2 separate regions of the Homo sapiens genome follow, and region 2 is linked to region 1. A link means that fine-mapping ties the variant in region 1 to the expression of a gene that starts in the linked region. Tissue or cell type: naive CD8 T cells. Region 1 holds a variant in brackets; the other region holds the start of a gene. All regions are shown on one strand. Distances are between the middles of the regions.

The links. PIP is the estimated chance that this variant, and not a neighbour inherited with it, causes the effect.
Region 2: RAD51C starts here. The variant in region 1 is fine-mapped to the expression of RAD51C in naive CD8 T cells (Schmiedel 2018, PIP 0.95).

What each region holds. Positions count from the first base shown.
Region 1 is chr17:57,856,822-57,864,501 of GRCh38, reverse strand. It overlaps CUEDC1 (CUE domain containing 1), which reads left to right. Exons shown (of 11, transcript NM_001271875.2): 11 at 1,217-3,259. Among named protein-coding and RNA genes, the nearest start is that of MRPS23, 11 kb to the right of the region's middle. RefSeq lists enhancers at 1,591-2,440, 2,441-3,290, 3,291-4,141. The variant T/AT (reference allele first, on the strand shown) is at 4,288.
Region 2 is chr17:58,689,191-58,695,283 of GRCh38, reverse strand. It overlaps RAD51C (RAD51 paralog C), which reads right to left and starts at 2,682. Exons shown (of 9, transcript NM_058216.3): 1 at 2,496-2,682; 2 at 95-353. The coding sequence starts at 2,640. TEX14 (testis expressed 14, intercellular bridge forming factor) reads left to right here and starts at 3,239. Exons shown (of 32, transcript NM_031272.5): 1 at 3,239-3,345. IGBP1C (IGBP1 family member C) reads left to right here and starts at 3,239. Exons shown (of 2, transcript NM_001395966.1): 1 at 3,239-3,345. RefSeq lists enhancers at 2,325-2,494, 2,825-2,924.

The sequences.
Region 1 (7,680 bases):
CTCCTGTGACCCCAGGAAGCCAGGTTCTCCTTCCTCTCTCCTGGCTCCTGTTGCTCCGCCCACTCCCTAAATACTGGCTCTCCTTGTTGCTCTGCCCTTGACCCTCTTCGAAGTCTTCTCACTGCCCACTCTGGCAGTGCCTCCGCCCTCTTTTATAGCACCAGCAACACTTCTGCGCATCTGGCTCCTACATCTGAATCTCCATCGCAGTTAGGCTTCCAGAGCTGCTTCGTGTCCCCAGCTGCACCCAAGATTTTCTTTTCAGCCTTGGATAGCAACTCAGTCTCTCCTCCTGACTGCCCCCTTTCATTCTCTTTTCTATTCCTTCCATTACCACCCTGATAGATGCTCATCACCTAGGTCACAGCCCTGTTCTCTTCACTGCCCCTACCTACTCTGATTATCCCACCACCAAAACACCACTTTAGTTCCATTTTTCCTGTGCTCTTTGAATGAATCTTTTTTTTTCTTTTTCTTTTCTTTCTTTTTTTTTTTTTTTTTGAGATGGAGTCTCGCTCTGTTGCCCAGGCTAGAGTGCAGTGGTGCAATCTCCACTCACTGCAACCTCCCCTTCTCAAGTTCAAGCCATTCTCCTGCCTCAGCCTCCCGAGTAGCTGGGATTACAGGCACGTGCCACCCCGCCCGGCTAATTTTTGTATTTTTAGTAGAGACGGGGTTTCACCATGCTGGTTAGGCTGGTCTTAAACCCCTGACCTCGGCCCGCCTCAGCCTCCCAAAGTGCTGAGATTACAGGCGTGAGCCACTGCGCCTGGCCTGAATGAGTCTTCTGAGTAAAGTCTTAGGAACTCTTCAGCCTGGTGTCTGAGTCCTACCAAGTTCTGCCCCCAGTTTACTTTTCTCCACCTACAGGTCTTTGTGGCCTAGCTCCCCTGAGCTATGACGTATTAGAATGGGCCAGGTACCCTCCCACGTTGAAGCCCTCCCCTACAGCTGCTTCACCCCGGGATTCCATTCCTTCACTCCATCTCCTGCTGCCAGAGTCCCTGCAGCTGGGCAAGCTGGAATGGTTCTAGGAATTTGAATGGGGGGATGACCCAGGCAGAGTTCTACGGTTGACCTCGAGTCCCTGGAAAAAGGAGAGGGCTTACGTCTTTAGTAACTTCTCCCAAAACTGTCTCTCCAGGAACCAGTGACCAGGAAAGACCATTGGGCTCCTTTGAAAAAGATTCCTCCCATCCCTTTTTTCCCCTACCAGATGCCAGCAGCTCTTCCTTGCCAGAGATGATCTGACCCGGTGGGGGCAGCTGGAAAGCAACACTGGCCCCCAGCTGAAGGGCCCAGCTGCAGCCAGACAGATGGTGCTTGAGAACCGAGGCCCGGTGATCCTCCAGCCACAGTCCAGCCCAACCACTGCCACTTTCCATGGGACTTAGAACTTCGGAGTTGCTGCCTTGCAATTGGAGGAAGGACCTGGGGCCCCTATAGGCAGCAGCCAATTACAGCCCCTTTTGTAGCCAGGCGTTCCTATGGTCAAAGAGTGGAAATGCAGGAACCAACCTCCCTTTAAAAAAAAAAAAATCCAGAAAGCAGATAAAAGTTGGAATATGGAAAAGGGCAAGATGACCCCCACCAGAGGCTCTTTGGCCTGAAGGTGGAGTCTCTGCCTCCGTCCGTTCTCTATCTCTCCTGTCACAGACTCTGCCTGACCCCCTTTCCTCAGCTCCCTTCTGGTCCCCCTTCCTCAGCTCCCTCCGGGCACTTGTGCCCTTCCCTTCCATGTCCTCCTGTATCTCAGCCTTCCCCCGGGGCTGCTGGCCCAGCACACGAGCCCTGCACCCAGCCTGGGTGGGAGGTCCCTGGCCAGTCCCCCAGGAACTCTGAGGAGCTATGGGCTACTGCAAAGCATCTGCCGACTGCCCTGCCCCGTCTGGCCTCATCAGGCTGCTGCTGTTAGGGATGGGCTCACTCCCAGCAGCTCCCGGTCACCCAGCAGGGATGGGGAGGGTGGCCACCCTGGAGCTGGAGGACTCTGGGGAGGCAGGGTCTTTAATTTGGCAGCAGACAAAAGCCAGTTCTGGAGTCACACCACAGTAGGGGCTCACAGGGGCTCTGACTCCCCAGCTGGACTGGAAGCCCTGCTGTCCGAGGGTGGGCAGCGGTGGGTCCTGGAGTGACCCCTTTGAGCAGGTGCAGGGCTAAAGAGCAAGGCGGAAAGGCCGCCAGCCTGGGTGAGCGCCTAGGGCATAAGGGCTTGCTGGGTGCCCCTGAGAAGGGCGGGTGATCTGAGGAGGAGAACTCTGATTCTAGGAACGCTTACACGGCACTGACCACTGCCACGGGGAGGGAGGCTGCCCAGCCCGTGGCCCCGCCCTGGACATGGGAGCGCGCAGACCTTCCGGAGAGCCGGGAAGCCTGGGCAGGCACGAGGCTTCGGCGCGGCTCTGGGAGGTTGGGAGTGGCATCCGATCCTTGGCCGGGCCCTGGTGGCCTCCGTGGCCCCAAGATCACAAGGGCGTAGCGAAGGCGAGCCGGCGATCGCACCTCGTCCCGCCCACCCTGCCCGGACTCGCAACGCCGAGCTTGGGGAGGGCCGGGACGCGCAGCCGCCGCCGAGCGTGACCAAGTTTGGAAACGCGCGCGGGGCCGGGACGCTGGCTCGGGGGGCCCTGCCGAGGAGCGGTCGCCCCCTCCGCTGCTCCCCGCGCCAGGCCTGGGGCCCTGGAGGGAGGGGGGGGGGTCTCCGAGGAGTGCCTCGGTACCCCAGCTCGAGTTCTCGACGGGTCTCTGAGCCTTCCCCGCGCCAGGACCCGGCGCACTGTGGGGGAAGCCCCAGCCCCATGTCTGTTGAGTGTTGCTTTGTTATTTTTTTTCCTCCTATGTGTGGGTTTTTTCTTGGAGCTGTTTCATAGGAATTCCTGTAATAAACAGTTGGTGTTCTCTTGGTGCTCTGATGTGGCCAGCGGCGTGGGCTGGACCCTCCTGCTCCCTCCTCCCTCCCGGCCTGGGGCAGGGTTTGTCCCCAGGAGCCCCGCGTCGCATCCCTAGGGTACCCCTGCCTTGCCTGGCCCATTCACCCGCGGCGCTCTCCGACTGCACTCTCGAGGTGACACCTGCGGCACCGCTGCACCTCAACCTTGCGGACCTGCCGGCTGCGTCTAGCGCTGTCGCCTTCCTGTTTGGCCCAGGACTGTAAACCGCTTGCTGTATCAGGCAAGGGAAACACCATGGGGAAAGCCAGTCTGTTGAGAAAGCTCCAGACGGCCACCTCCCTAAATAAACAGCTTCTGGATTAAAGGCAGACTGGAGGTTGCAGGGAAGTGCAATTTCAGACTTCAAAGGGAACTCAGAGATCGCCCCAGTTGATACATCTCTCCTTCCTCCTCCTCCTCCAGCTCAGCAGGACTACCCCGCCCTCCACCACAGGGACAGGGCCCTCGCTGCCAGAAGAGGAAGCTGGTGCCGTTTCCAGACAGGGCAGTTCTCAAGGTCGAAGTTTTTCCTTGTGTTGAGCTAACGGCCTCCTAGGGGTTCCAACCACACATCTTACTCCTGGGCTCTGGGTCACTGTTGCCAAGGCTGCCTCTCTTGCCCCTGATGCCATGTTTCAGCTCAGTGACCTCACCCTCTCTCTTCCCTGACAACAACTGTGCCTCCTGCACTCCTGCAGGGGCCTCCCCACCCATCAGGGTCTGGCCCCACTCCCAGTCAGACCCAGGGGGGCTTGTAAAGTGGCACACCTGGGACAGGGTGACGCTCCACATGAGCTGTCCTGAGCAAACCAGGATTATCCTCCAGCCCTGGTTCTCTGCGTGGTATTCATTGCCTGGGAAGCTGTTCCAAATGCCAATTCTCAGTCCCATCCGAGACCTACTGAGTCAGAAACTCTGGGGGTGCAGCCCAGCAACCTGTGATTCTGATGCACACCACAGTTTGGGAACCATGGTACCAGGCCAGTACCTAGCACTGGCTGCACAGAATTACTTGAGTAGCTTTAAAAAAAATCCTGGCCAAGACCAGGCTCAGTGGCTTACACTTAGAATCCCAGCACTTTGACAGGTCGAGGCAGCAGGATCGCTTGAGGCCAGGAGTTCAAGACCAGCCTGGGCAACGAAGTGAGACCCATCCCCCAACCCCCCACATCTCTACAAAAAAAAAAAAAAAAAAAAAATAGCTGGGTTGGTGGCACACATGTGTAATCCCAGCTACACGGGAGGGTGAGGGGGGAGGATCGCTTGAGCCCAGGAGGTCGAGGCTGCAGTGAGCTGTGATCATGCCACTGCACTCCAGCCTGGGTGACAGAGCAAGACCCTGTCTCAATTAAAAAAA[T/AT]AGATCCTGGCCCGCCCTTGTGGTTCATGCCTGTAATCCCAGCACTTTGGGAGGCCAAAGTGGGAGGATTGTTTGAGGTCAGGAATTTGACATTACAGTGAGCTATAATTGAGCCACCGCACTCCAGCCTGGGTGACAGAGCAAGACCTCATCTCTATTAAAGAAAAAACGTCCTGATGTTCAGTACCGTAGACCAATTAAATCAACTATGGGTTTTTTGTTTGTTTTTTAAAAAAAGCTCCCAAGGTAATTAAATCTGCCGTCAAGCTTGAGGACCAGCCCACTTGGCAATGTGTTAGGTGTTTTAGCTCATTTGATCTTGCCCAATAACGATCACTTTACAGATAGTATAATTACAGTTCAGAGAGGTTAAGTAACTTATCCAAGATCACAGAGCTAGAGTGTCATGAGGCCAGAAAAGGAGGCTGAGGGCTGCCTGACTCCAAAACTTGTGTTGCCTCCTCTACACCCCTGCTGCCCAAAGTGTGCCCTGTGGACCAGCAGCATCGCCATTCCCTGGGAACTTGTTAGGAATGCGTATTATCAGGCCCCATTCCAGATCTGAATCGGAAACTGGCGTGCATTTTAACAAGACCTTCAGATCATTCTGATACATGCTCAAATTTGAGAACCACAGTTCCACAATCTGACCACTCACAGCTTGGTCTATGGACCAGCAACATTCATTATTACCTAGGAGCTTGTTAGAAAAAGAATCTCAGGCTCTGCCCCAGCCTCACTGGATCAGAATTCGCATTTTAACAAGCTCTTCAGGTGACTTCTATGCACATTAAAGCTAGAGAAACACTGCTCTAGAACACTGGTTCTCAAACTTGCTGTACGTTAGAATCATTTCTGATGTGTGGGTCTCATTCCCAGAGATTCTGATTTAATTGGTTTGGGATTTAGCCTGAGAATCAGATTGTAAAATCCCAGGTGCTTCTAATATGCAGCAAGTTTGAGACCCTTACACCATTTTACCTGTTAGTGTAGATGACACTGGAGATGATTGTAATCAGAGAGAGAAAGAGAGGGAGAATGCTTACCAGGTCTAACAAGGAGTGCAGGAGATGAAGCCTCTGCTGGAGCCGCTGACGCCTGGTTAAAGATGGCTATGGGTCCAGGGGCAGGGACAGGCTGGACCAGATGACTGCCTTAGCCACCTACCCTCACATTGCTTGCTCATCTGCAAGTGCTGAACTCCTGGTATCCACAAGGCGATACTTGCAGATTTATCCTCTGCAAAAATGCAGAGCTGGGCTATCTGAAGTCTGGTCCAGCCAGGGCCCCTTCCCTATCTTGATGATGCTTTGATGTCCTCAGGGATCAGCCCCAACTTAAAAGGCGATCATGGGTCTGGAAAACGCTGTGCCCACAAGAATTGCCTGGTTATTACCATGCTGGGGTCTCAATTCTCCCTTTGTTTTCTTGAAGCAACTGGTTGGAGATAGGGTCTGGGGGGGAAACAGGAGAATTTGCTCTGAAGAATGAAGGAGGCAGGCAAGGTGTGGTATGAAGATGGTAGCTCTTTATCGAGTGTTTATTGTGTGCCACACACTCCTAGGGTACTTTACCGAATCCTTCACAACAATTATATGAAATCAGTATTACTACGTGCGTTTCACACAGAGATGTTAAAGTCCTTACTCAACATCTACCCTCAGTAAGAGGTGGTAGTACCTGCATATGAATCCAGGCAGCTGAGCTCCCGAGATGATACCTAAACACTAAGCATGGTGGGGTCGGGTTGGGATGCAGGGGGATGGGGTTAAGATGCAGCACCTTTGCACAGATGCAATCTGTGGAGCACAGAAGGGCCCACTTGCTCAAAAACATCACCAAAGTGATCCGTGATCCAACAGAGTGCCTGGAACGCCTCCATTAGCATTCTTTATCTGGTTTTAAAAACAATCTCTCAGCATTTCCATTAAATGGCAAATATGCTATTGAGAGAGAAGCACATGAACTCCTTATGCCCATTATCACAGCATAGATTAATTTGTTGGATTAATGGGCTGCACCAGCTGGAGGAAGAGTTGGAAATTTCTGGAGGTGGCCAGGCGGGAGAGGGTGGGCATGTGAAGGGGGCTGTGTAAATCGACTGCCACCTGGTGGTCATCTTGCAGAAGTGGCAGTCACTGGCCACTGAGACACCCAGCACCATTTTCCCAGAAGGAAGATGCGAGCACCTGTTTGGCCTTAGGCCAAAGAGACAGAGGGAAATTTACTCTGTTCACATGGTTATATGTTTTCTAAAATTTGCAAAACAAAGATATTTTAAATTTTTTCTTTTCTTTTTGTTTTTTTGAGATGGAGTTTCACTCTTGTTGCCCAGGCTGGAGTGCAACAGTGTGATCTCAGCTCACTGCAACCCCCGCCTTCTGGGTTCAAGTGATTCTCCTGCCTCAGCGTCCTGAGTAGCTGGGATTACAGGCACCCGCCACCACGCCCAGCTAAATTTTTGTATTTTTAGTAGAGACGGGGTTTCGCCATGTTGGCCAGGCTGGTCTCGAACTCCTGACCTCAGGTGATCCACCCACCTCAGCCTCCCAAATTGCTGGGATTACAGGCCGTGAGCCACTGCGCCTGGTCAAATTTTTTCTTAAGAGAGCCACTAAGATTAGATAAGCTTCAGGCCCCCCAAAACCAGCATCTACCCTGAAGAGCTGAGGCTTGGAGTCAGGTGGCCTTTCTAGAGCGTAAAGAGTCACAGTTCTTTATCAGGACAAGAGGATTATTCCAGGGACTCCAGTGGGAGGAACTATGAAACTCAGTACAAACAGCACATGCTTCCTTGCTTTGACCTTGCCATTCAAAGTGTGGTCTTTGGATACATCGACCAACTGTCCTGGTTTCCCTGGATGCAGAACTTTCAGTGCCAAAACTAGGAAAGTCGTGGGCATACTCGGGTGGGTTCGTTATCCCAACTGCAGATTCGCAGCACTGGCATCAACCTGGAAGGTTGCTAGAAATGCAGACCCAGACCTACTGAGTCACACTGCATTTTCCAAGATCTGCAGCAAATTCATGTGCATATTAAAGATCGAGTTGCTGTGGCTTCCCCAGGAAGAGAGGGGCCCACACTGGCCCTGAAATGTATGCCTTCAAGGGGTTTGGTGGGCTGCAAAACCCCACAGAGTGATTGCAACTGGTCTTGAATTCCAACAATAAAAGGCCAGCTTCTTGCTCCAGGCCTAGCTGGCCCTTTTTTCCCTGGTCACAGTGACATAGGCCTCCCAGGGCATAAAGTACTTAGTTCTCTTCCTGAACTGGATTCTTCCTGGGGGCAAGCCCAGGTTTGGTGAAGAAAAGAGTGGGTAGCTAAATGAAAATAGTTTGTAGGCTGGGCACGGTGGCTTACGCCTGTAAATCCTAGCACTTTGGGAGGCTGAG
Region 2 (6,093 bases), 830 kb before region 1:
ATATATCTTATTTGGTTTCCTGACGATAGTACAAAATACTACTTTCATAATATGTTATTAAACCCACCCTTAAAAGGAGAACACTTTATTTTACCATAATTGTGTTTTTCCAACACCTGGTGCACCACAAATTTCTGTTGTTTTCATTAAGGGCACTCCACCCCCAAGAATATCATCTAGTGCTGAACAGAAGGTGATTATGAAGCCCTGGGTATGCTCCTGCTCAAGAAGTTCCAGTGCTGTACACTTCTTGTGTGACTCAGATGTACCAGCATATCTTGGTTTATTTGTGAGACATTCTCTTCTGATAATTTGCAGAGTTTCTAAGGCTTCTGCTTTAGATATCCCAACTTCTGAAAGTAAAATAAGAAAAAAAGAACCCTAATTTTAGAGATTTAAAAGTGTAACATGATAATCGATTGTCTTTATTAATTTGTAGACAACAGTGATGCTAGGAGTGGAGAAACATAAAAATGCAACATTCTATCAACCATTTAATTTTTCAGTTTGGCCGGACACAGTGGCTCATGCCTAAAATCCCAGTACTTTGGGAGGCTGAGGCAGCCAGATCACCTGAGGTCAGGAGTTGAAGACCAGCCTGGCCAACATGGTGAAACTCCGTCTCTACTAAAAATACAAAAATTAGCCGGGCATGGTGGCACGCGTTATAATTCCAGCTACTTGGGAGGCTGAGGCAGGACAATCACTTGAACCTGCACCACTGCACTCCAGCCTGGATCGCACCACTGCATTCCAGCCTGGATGACAGTGCGAGACTCCGTCTCAAAAAAAAAAAAAAAAAAATTCAGCTTAATAAAGGTATTCGTTTTCTTAGTCATCACATAAAGAATTACCTATTACCTCAGAAACAATTCAACTAAAGCATTTCTGAGTACCTACAAGTGTCTCAGGAAGCAGAAATAAAAATGTACTCACTATTACCATATTTTTACTATCCCTTTTGGTCTTATGAAGCCATAATTATCTCGCTCTCATAAGGTATACAAATTATTTTTCAGATGAGAATGAAAATAGATGTTTTAACTGCCTAAAACAAGGTACAACTTTAAGAAGCACATATGCATGTATTATTTATAATAAAAACTTTTCATGGAAATAACTGATGTAAAAAATTCATGTATCACTCCAAACTAATGAGAACAATTATTCAAGGCACAAGCATTTTAAAGAATACATTTATGCTTCCTCGACTACACAATTTCACCCATCTGACAGTGTGGCCTGAGAAAAGAAAATGGCAATTACAAAACAAGCTGGTGAAGAAATAATGGTGAGGATGACATCACTTATCAGTTTGATATATCAGTGCTTGATCTGATAAGAATATGAGCCATAAATATGGGGCTAATAAAAGACAATGGTGATGACAGCATTTAGGAAATGAAAATCCTATCAAGAGCCTGAATGCTGGAATTAGATTGCCTGGGTTTGTAAATCCTGGCACCACTTACTGCATGACTTTGGGCAAGTTACTTCACTTTTTCTTTTTTGCTCAGATTTTTTTCGTCTATAAAATGGGAATGAGACGATACATGTAAAAAGCTTGGTAGAATATCAAGACCATCTAAAGTAGTCAATAGTTGTTAGTGATCATTATTATTCAGGGTCTCACATTTCTTCTTTGAAAAGCCAACTTGTTGAAGAAAAAAGAGCCCATCAAATCTTGGGGGACACAGTCTGCGCGCGGTATGACTTAAACAGTTAAGGCTGGGTCCACGAGACTTATTCTTTAGAGGCGAATTGAAACCTCTGTATTTTCCATCAGTAAGGGCAGTAACTTAAAATTCTGTTCCATCTTCTTCAGTGAATAGCACAGGTCCAGACATGTCATAGAGAGATGTGCACAACAAGTGACCACCGCCAGCCTCATATTTGTATGTCTCAGGATGCAGTGGTTCCCATCTGCAATGCTCTGGAATATGAGGTTTTGGGTGTTTCAGTTAATTACGTAAGAGAATATTCTTTCTATGCTTCCTCAAGATTCCGGGGATTCTACTCTCTTTCTCATTCTTAGTGTCTCTAGTCCTACACAAAATCCTGCATTTCTGAAATTTAACCCTTACCCCTTGGATCTTGGAACAGCAAAAATTAGACAACCAATTCTGACTCCAGTATTTCCTAACCCAGTTAGCATGAAAAGTTACCTAAGCTCCCCAAGATATCAGTTCTCTCATCCATATACTGAATATAATAATCTACGTAAGCGGGTTGAGGGTTAAATGAGACAATCCTCAAAGCATTCAGCAGGCATTGCCAGAGGAAAAGCAATTAGTAAATGTTTTCACGACCACAGTTCTCCTAACCATTCAGACAACTTGTAAGTGGAGTCGAGGAGCTCTTTCACGCTGTAAACATGGACGTGGGAGGAAGCAGAATCTAACGGAGACTGGGCTGAAGGCCGAGGCGAGAGAACGAAGACTGAGGCGGCGCTGACGGCGGCCGGTGTGCCTCAGCTTGCCATCAGGAGTCGTTACCTTTGCTAAGCTCGGAGGGTTTCACCTCTAGGAGTTCCTCAGCAGTCTGGAACCCCGCAGACACCAGCTTCACCCGCACCGCTGGAGACAGCGGGAAACTCACCAAATCCCGCTGCATTTCAAAGCGGAACGTCTTCCCGCGCATCGCAGGCTCACCTGCTAACCCCGGAGCAGCCAAACTCCGCACGCCCTCGCTGGGGCGTGCGGCGTGACGTCAGACGTAAAGCGGAAGGGGCCGGCTCTGCGGCCTGGCCGCACGGGGCTCCGGGCCTTGCAGCTTTGCGCAGTCTTGTAAATTTTCACACTTATGCACCATTCCGTTTTGATTCCCCAAAATCCCATTTAGAGATTCCTCATCAAATGTACACCCTGACTGTAAAACGATGGACGGAGACCATAGGACGGAGAGCCAGGCCCAGTGGGTTCTCCACGCCACATTTCCTTGCCTCCACCGTGGCCTGTTAGGTGAAGCCTCAGAGTCATTAATAGGAATGATCTCGAGTGGGAGTAGTGAGCGTAACGGGCACACACTAGCCAGTTACCATTATTTTGGTGTGAAAAGCTCAGGGAACAATCATTAGAATTAATCTGCGTGCTCTTTGTAGAGTTGCAGTCTCTTGGCTCTTCCCGCTGACCGTCCCCCTTTTCTGACCCCCCCCCCCCGCAACGACCACATTGCTTTTCCCGCCCTCGCGAGGGATTGTGGGCCAGCCCCCAACGGCCGCTGGGAGGGATCAGTCCGCATTCCCCGCACCCACCCACGTCTTCCCGGGAGTCGTATCCCGAGCATGGAGGTTACTGAGACCGTTATTTCTTCATGGCCTGCCTAGCTTAAGCAGTAGCTGGAAAAGTAAGCAACTAATGTCCCCATTAGTGTGTCTGGGCTCCTGGGGTCCTGAGAAGGAGGGGCTGGGCTACACAAGAGCTCCTTTTGTGGTACAGACTTGGGAAGGGGTGTTCAAGCAGTGGTAGTGACCGCCTCTAAATTACAGAACTTCGGGGAGGAAGGCAAGCAGTTTAGAAGGTGGTTTATGAGTTCCTTCCTTGCCTAGGTGAGTGTAACTTATTTAGCAGGGGGTAACTTATTCCCTACCTATTGGCGATTTTTTTTTTTTTTTTTTTGAGACAGAGTCTCACTGTGTTGCCCATGATGGAGTGCAGTGGCACGATGTCGGCTCACTGCAACCTTCGCCTCCCGGGTTCAAGTGAGTCTCCTGCCTCAGCCTCTTGAGTACCTGGGATTACAGGCGCACGCCACCATGCCCGGCTAATTTTTGTATTATTATTAGAGAAGGGGTTTCACCATATTGGCCAGGCTGGTCTCGAACTCCTGACCTCGTGATCCGCCTGCCTCGGCCTCCCAAAATGCTGGGAGTACAGGCGTGAGCCACCGCGCCCGGCCCTGTTGGCAATGATTCTTAGTCTTGACTTTTCTTCCCAGCTTAGAAGAACTTTCTAAATATTGCAAATCAGAGCCCTCTACATACTTAGATCTAAAAAAGGAAACAACGTATGTTGAGCACTTTAGCAAATCCCACACATTTCAAATGGCCATAGCCATGCCAAAAGGAAGATAAGGACATGGAAGCTCAGCATATAGTTTAATATCAATTCTGATAAAAGAAAAAAAGCTGGCCGGGCGCAGTGGCTCGTGCCTGTAATCCCAGCACTTTGGGAGGTCGAGGCAGGTGGATCTCTTTGAGCTCATGAGTTTGAGACCAGCCTCGACAACATGGCGAAACACTGTCTGTACCAAAAGTACAAAAAATTAGCCGGGCATGGTGGCATGCACCGGTCGTCCCAGCTACTCAGAAGTCTGTGGTGGGAGGATCCCTTCAGCCTGGGAGTGAGCTATGATCACGCCACTGCACTCCAGCTTGGGTGATAGAGTGAAACCCTGTCTCAAACAAACAAAACACCTCAGCACAGTTTTCTTAAAGCCAAGATTCAAACCTAGCATCCTTTTTACTACCCCGAGCTATTAAGATTTTGAGTCCCTACTGGCGGGGAGAATACGAGAAGCATTTATACCCCATTTGGTAGGTCAAAGAAAGTCTTGTAGGACTGGCCAAAATGTGGTTGGCCACTCAACCCATTGCTTAACTTCTAATATGGTCTATATTTGAGCGCTCAGTGGATGCATAAATACTATCTTCAGGGAGATTTCATGCTTATGCTTATAAAGCACCCAGATTCTTGGGTGAAGAAAAAACATGGTATTACCACATTCAACAATAAGTCTTCAGTTAGTTTGGTCAAACTCAGTGGAATCAGTCGTGTTTAGAATTTCTTTCGTTGACAGTGGAAAGTTCAAAACTACTTTGGCCTGGCACAGTGGCTTAAGCCTGGAATCCAAGCACTTTGGGAGGCCAAAGAGGGCACATCGCTTGATCTCAGGAGTTTGAGACCAGCCTGGGCAACAGGGCAAAACCCCATCTCTACAAAAAATACAAAAATTAGCCAGCATGGTGGTACATGCCTCTAGTCCCAGCTACTTGGGAGGCTGAGGTGGGAGAACCAATTGAGCCCGGGAGGTTGAGGTTGCAGTGAGCTGAGATTGCGTAACTCCACTCCAATCTGGGCGACAGAGCGAGACTCCATCTCAAAAACAAAACAAAGCAAAATAAAAAAAACAAAAAAACCCCCACTCAACTCTATCTATAGCTGTATAATTTAAGTGCTATTAATATCTTCTGCAGATCACAAGGTCAGGAGATCGAGACCATCCTGGCTAACATGATGAAACCCCGTCTCTACTAAAAATACAAAAAATTAGCTGGGTGCGGTGGTGGGCGCCTGTAGTCCCAGCTACTCGGGAGGCTGAGGCAGGAGAATTGCATGAACCCAGGAGGCGGAGCTTGCAGTGAGCCTAGATCACGCCACCACATTCCAGCCTGGGCGACAGAGCGAGACTCCATCTCAGAAAAAAAAAAAAAAAAAATCTTCTGGCCCTTGCCTATAATAATTATTTTCATCATCATTCTTAAGATGTCTTTAATGCAATTTGCTCTGTAGTCATGCTTTCAAACTGGGATCCAGGTTTTTGAAACCACGCACTAGGAACTAAACAAAGCTATGGGATAAATATGGAAGGTGCACCTTCTTGTGTAATCACTTTTCTCAAAAAAAATCTTTCAGGGAGGGAAGAGTTAAATGATTTACCTAAGTCATTTGAAATGGTTTATATTAAGCAGACATTACATCTGTGTAGTGTGGATAAATCATTAAAATTTTTGAAAAAGAAAATAAACTTTAATAAAACATGGGGTAGGCCGGGCACGGTGGCTCACTCCTGTAATCCTAGCACTTTGGGAGGCCAAGGCGGGTGGATCATGAGGTCAAGAGATCAAGACCATCCTGGCCAACATGACGAAACCCTGTCTCTACTAAAAACACAAAAATTAGCTGGGCATGTTGATGTGTGCCTATAGTCCCAGCTACTTAGGAGGCTGAGGCAGGAGAATAGCTTGAACCCAGGAGGCAGAGGTTGCAGTGAGTGAGATCAGGCCACTGCACTCTAGCCTGGAAACAGAGAGAGACTCCCTCTAAAAATAAATAAATTAGCTGAGCGTGATGTCTCACGCCTGTTTCACAGCAC